Linked DNA regions of Homo sapiens: region 1 is linked to region 2. Evidence: fine-mapped expression QTL. A gene starts in region 2. The other region holds a variant in brackets. All regions are shown on one strand. Distances are from middle to middle. Region 1 has its middle 54 kb from the start of PLEKHG3. Region 2 holds the start of ZBTB1 (zinc finger and BTB domain containing 1).

Region 1 (2,898 bases), 150 kb after region 2:
GAGATCATTAGTGTGAACTCTAATTGACTATGACTGGTGTCCTTCTAAGAAGGGGAAATTGGCCGGGTGTGGTGGCTCACACCTATAATCCCAGCACTTTGGGAGGCTGAGGTGGGCGGATCACTTGAGGTCAGGAGTTCAAGACCAGACTGACCAATATGGTCAAACTCTCTCTTTAGTAAAAATACAAAAATTAGCTGGGCATGGTGGTGGGCACCTGTAATCCCAGCTACTCAGGAGGCTGAGGCAGGAGAATCACTTGAACCCGGGAGGCAGAGGTTGCAGTGAGCCCAGATTGTGCCATTGCACTCCAGCCTGGGCGACAAGAGTGAAACTTTGTATCAAAAAAAAAAAAGGGTAGGGTGGTGGGGGAATTTGCACACAGACATGTCCACAGGAGAACACCACGTGCAGATGGGAGTGATGTTGCCACACACCAAGGAACTAGAGCCAAGGAAGAGAGGCTTGGAACAGATCCCTCCCGAGCACCTTCCGAGTGAGTGAGCATGGCCCCGCTGGGACCTTGAGTGTGGACTTCCTGTCTCTAGAACTGTGAGACAGTAAATGTCTGTTGTAAGCCACCCAGTTTGTGGTACTTTGTTATTGCAGCCCTGGGCAGCTTGTGCAGCAACTCTCTCCCCTTATGTTGCTTTTGAGGCGATGACAGCGTTGTGTAGTTGAAACTCCTGCTCCTCCCACGGCACCGGATCTTCGAAGAACCACCTGGCCATCCACAAAGGATGGCTGACATCACCTCAGCCCCCTGGGGAGGATAGCAAGGCAGGTTCACAGAGAAAACCCCGTCAGGCATCCTAAAGGGACACTGGTGAAATGTCACAGCCCCTGTGTCATCGGGGGTGGTGGCAGCACAGGACTGATAGTTTGCGGTCAGCAGAGAAGATGTCCCTGGTCAGGAAAGAGCAATTCTCTGCTCACCTCAAAGGGACAAGGGATGAGGTGGGAAGGGGGAGGCTGCCACACCTGCGTTACGTGAACTGATAACACCTGGGCTCCAGAGCGCCCCGACCTAAAATGACCACAGCTGATTGAGAAAGCTGAGGACTGGGCTGGAGATTATGCATCTGCGCATGCTTTTTTAGTTCATTCTGTGGGAGCAACTTTTGGAGAATTGGAACAGATCGGGGGCGAATCAGGGGAAGGCAACTCTGAGGGGAACGTTCAGGGGAATTTAGAAGAAGGATGATAATGTAGGTGCAGAAGTCATTGCAGCCCGCCCCTTGAACTCGTCTCAGGAAGGTGTGCACTGGACGAGTCAAACAAGGTGCTGCACTTGAGCCTGAGTCTGGGTGCAGCAAGCTCCGCAGAGGCAGCGACTGTATCCTTGAATGGCTGGGATTGCTGGGGCCACTGCTGCCTAAGCAGGTCTGGAAA[T/C]GGGGGTACAGCAAAAAGCTGTTTTATTGGGGTGTGTGTGTGTTTTGAGACAGGATCTTGCTCTGTTGCCCAGGCTGGAGTGCAGTGCCATGATCATAGCTCACTGCAGCCTTGAACTCCTGGGCTCAGGTGATCCTCCTGCCTCAGCCTCCCAAGTAGCTGGGACTACAGTTGCACCACCACACCCAGCTAATTTTTTTATTTTTATTTTTATTTTTGTAGAGATAGGGGTCTCATTATGTTGCCCAGTCTGGTCTCCAACTCCTGGCCTCTGGTCTCCAACTCCTGGCCTCAAGCAATCCTCCCACCTTGGCCTCCGAAGTGTTGGAATTACAGGCATGAGCCACTGCTCCTAGCCTGAAAGCTGTTGTTTTTATCCACCAGCTTCTCCCCCTCCCTTGCTACCTACCCACATTTGAGGGTTAGTGCAGGCCTCCTTCCCTTGGGGAAGGTGATCCTGATGAGGCTGCCAATCACAGTTCCCTTTCTTCCCCCTCACTTCAGCCCAAGAGGCAGGCATGAGACCCAAGCCTAGCCAATCAGAGCTCTTTATTGGGAGTTACGTCTTCTAAAGCAAGAAGTCCTCTCCCTCCTTAGGATGGCCAAACTGACATGATATGAGCCTAGAGCTGCCTGTAGCCATGTTGAGCCTAGCCCAGTCACAAATTCTGGGTCACTAAAGGTTAGTGAGAATCCTGATGACAACATATAAATATTTTTATTCTGTCCCTGCCCAACCTGTGGACACATGTCTGAGACCTAAGGAGAGAGATGGCTGTGAGTAAAAAGTGAGATCTCAGTAAAATCTCTACAGACCTCCAGGGCAAGGGCAGTGCATTGGAGAGGAGAGAAGCATCTTGCTACCACTTCAACATAGAGCAGCTCCAGCTTTGGTCCAGTGAGTTCTGCAGGGTGAATAGCTGGAAAGTGGGCCATGGCCCATGGGAGACTTTGGTGCTTGGCAGGGGCACGAGTTCCAGTGGCAACACCATCTCCTGGCAGGAGATGGTGGTATCTTGAAAACCATAGGAAGTACTGGGTGAGAGAGCAAAACAGCACTCAGGGAGAACAGTCTTGTACACACACACACACACACACACATACACGTGAGACTGGTCCCTCTTCTCATGATTCACAAACATACTTCTTATTTTTCTATGGGGGTGGGATGTGTGGGATGGTTGATTAACAGAAGATTGCAGGTATAGGTCTGGCTTCAGCAGATAAGGCAAGAGCCAGTGAAATCTGAGTTTTGGGGTTTTGTATGAGACAGGGTCTCACTCTGTCACCCAGGCTGGAGTGCAGTGGTACACTCACTGCTCACTGCAGTCTTGACCTCTTGGGCTCAAGTCAGTCATCCTCCTGCCTCAGCCTCCTGAGTAGCTGGGATTACAAGTGTGTGCCACCACACCCAGTTAATTTTTAATTTTTTTTGTAGATCTGGGGTTTTGCTCTGTTGCCCAGGCTGATCTTGAACTCCTGTGTTCAAGCAATCTTCCTGCCTCA
Region 2 (2,898 bases):
TGGTAACAACTGATTACTCCAAATACTGAGTGCCAGAGAAGACGGTGATAAGATGGGTCAAGCTTCAAAAAGAAAAACCGGATATGCTTAGAACAAGATAAACATAATTTGAAGATAGAAAAGGGGGGGATGTCTTCTTGCCCTAGAAACGAGGTAATCACAAGCTGGGAGTGGAAACAGTAGCCGCAGCGTCCTCCCAGCATCTGGAAAGTCGCCCGCTCGTAAGAGGGGTCGGCGCTACCCGAGGGAGGCCGCAGGCCTACTGGGGTTTCCTGCTGGGGGTCGCACCCGGACCCGCGGCCGGGACGGCTCTGCACCTTCGCGGCACCCCGTGTGCCACCCTGAATCAGGCCCCGGCAGCCGCTCCTACGAGCAGCAAAGGGTGGTTCTGGGTATTGTCGGCCCAGCGCTCACTCGCGGATGTATTTTCCTCCTGTGCCCTGCCTGACATCTCAATCGGACCAAAAACACCCCTCTCCCCAGCTACTTGCATCTGTCCCGCGACTGGTGCAGCTGCAGGCCGCCGCCCTGGGTGGCTCGCGGCAGGAGGGACTGAGCCCGGGGCAGCCCACAGGGGCAGGACCGCGTCGCTTACCCAGATGCCGCCGCGGCGGCAGGCCGACTCCTCCGTGCAGGAGGGGCGGGCTCCCAAGCCGCGCACTGCAAGCAGTGGCGCCGGCTCACGCACCCCTCGGCCGCCTCTCGCGCGGCTTCCCGCGCCGGCAGCCCGCGATGGCCCCACGTGACCGCGTGTCTGGTAGCAGGGGAAAGAGGGGCGCCAGGGCCGGGGTGTGCGTGCGTGCGTGCGTGCGTACGTGCGCGCCCTCCCGCCCGCCCGCCTCAGTGGCCGGGCGGGGGTCGGCCCGCGCTCTGAGTGCCGCCGCCACAGTTCGCAGTTGTGACTCTGTAGGCGGAAGCATAGGGACAAGCCTGAGCGTCACAGGCTCCCCACAAACAACCGCGTGACCCGGGGACTTTCCCCAGGGTGTGCAAAAGCACAGGCACCCCCTCAGTTCTGGGGTGAAGGTGGGGGTGGGGAAGGATGCGCCCGCGTGTTCGCTGGGGAAGGGATGAGGGCGCGGGGCCAGGGAGGCCGAGCCGCGGGAGCCTGGGTGGAGAGGCGGACTGGGCGAGGTGGGGCATGGCGGGGGAAGTGACTCAGGGCCAGAGGCAGCAGGCCCACGGAAGGTGGGGTCGGGGGGGCGCGGGGACTGGGCGACCCTGAACCGACGGGGCAGGGCGAGGTTGCCGGAGCACTCGAGGCGGACCGCGAGTGACGGCCCAGCTGCTGGGCCCAACGGGCAGGGGTCTGACATCTGGACGGAGTGGGAAAGCAGCCTCGCATCCTGCCCTGGGGAGTCGGGAGGAGCCCAGTTCCATCCAGCTGTGCAAACAGGAGGAGGAGGAGGTCCCAAGCCTACCCTTGAGAGGGGCAAGAGGGGTGGTCAAGCCGCCGCCGCCGCGACGGCCCCCGCGGTGCGGGTTGCGCCAGCCTCCTCGGAGCTCGACGCAGAAACTTGTTGCAACAAACAGGCGACCGCGGGTGCCCCTAGCAGCCAGCGGCAGAGTGGGTGGGCGGGCGAGAGGGAGGGGAAGGCTGGCGGACGCCGCAGCGAACTGGTGGGCAGACCCGGAGTCGCCGCGTAAGCGGGGCCGGCTCAGTGCGGTGCGGCAGGCGCGGCTGTGCGGCAGCGGAAGTCCTTTGTTGCAGCACAGTCCCTGGCAGAGCCAGAGCCTCTCCGCGCAGCCCAGCCCGAGCGCCGAGCGCCGCGCGCCGCCGCCACTGCAGCTCGCGGCCCCTTCGCCTTCGCCCGCCTTTCCCGCGGCTGATTTGCCTTAAACTCCCTAAAATCTCCGCAGCTCTGGTTCCTGTTGCGGCCGGTAAGTATTTGCCAGTTGTGGGGCTATTTGCGCAACTTTGGCCCAGGCCGGAGGGCGACGGGCCGCGGGCCTGGCGGAGTGCGGGGCCGGAGGGGCGCCGATCCGTGCGGGGAGCCGGAGCGCGGCGGACGCGCTGCGAGGACCCGGTGACGGGCGGCTGCCAGGCCGCCTGCTTGTTGCCGGCGCGTCAGGTCCCGGGCGTGCGGCCTCCCTGAGTCGGAGGCGAAGCCCCTACGGAGACTAGTTCCCAAATTAGTTACCTTCTTTTCTTTCTTTCTCTGCCTTTATTTTTTTCGAGGGGGGAGGGGAGGTGTAGACGGGAGGCGGGAGAACCCGGTTGATTGACGTGCCTAGAGCCCGCTTCTCTCAACTTACAGCTGCGGCTCGGCGGCGGGTGGGAGGGGAAGTGTCCCGGAGCCCGAGGCTGCAGACTTGGGCGCGCTCCGAGGGAGGAGGCGTAAGATCCGTGCAAATTCTTGTTACGCTGTTTCCCACCCCCTCTCGCCGGCACACACGCTTTTTGTTCAGTAAAAAGTGGAAGGTCTGAGTTTGGGAATTTTAAGTGGAAAAGATCTGTTTCTTGGGAAGGGAGTGCTTTCGCTTGCAGCGGTGGGCGCTTACTAGAAGTTCGGTAAATGTGTTGGATGCAGATCGGGAGTCGTTACTACTAAAGTATGTAGGCAGGGTCTGAGCTCAGCCACCCCACCCAGTCTCCCTTTCTACCTAAGCAACGCGTGTACATGATCTGAAGGGTTGACATGACATTTTCTAAATTGGGCGAATCAGGAAGAGGTTGATGAAAATCCTTGACGTTTTCTGGGGATAGGACATTTGTGTGTGATAACGTTCTTAAGTCGAATTTCAGTGTGGCAGTGCACGCAGATTCTTCATTGGTGTTAGTGTATTTCCATACGGTATGTATCAGTACAAGAAATAGTGTTCCCTTTGACACTCGAACCCAAGGAGTGGTCCGAGGCTTTTTGAGGCAACGTAGGATCAATGTCTCTGAAGCAGATT

What was found. PIP is the estimated chance that this variant, and not a neighbour inherited with it, causes the effect. A credible set is the group of variants that fine-mapping cannot tell apart.
Region 1: its variant is the best candidate, but not a certain one, in a credible set for the expression of ZBTB1 in adrenal gland (GTEx, PIP 0.58).

Annotation. Positions count from the first base shown.
Region 1 is chr14:64,649,067-64,651,964 of GRCh38, forward strand. No RefSeq gene overlaps it. Among named protein-coding and RNA genes, the nearest start is that of PLEKHG3, 54 kb to the right of the region's middle. The variant T/C (reference allele first, on the strand shown) is at 1,393.
Region 2 is chr14:64,503,066-64,505,963 of GRCh38, forward strand. ZBTB1 (zinc finger and BTB domain containing 1) reads left to right here and starts at 1,705. Exons shown (of 2, transcript NM_001123329.2): 1 at 1,705-1,881. ZBTB25 (zinc finger and BTB domain containing 25) reads right to left here and starts at 773. Exons shown (of 3, transcript NM_006977.5): 1 at 596-773. RefSeq lists enhancers at 1-24, 85-184, 955-1,044, 1,145-1,815 and silencers at 505-934, 1,535-1,794, 1,905-2,014.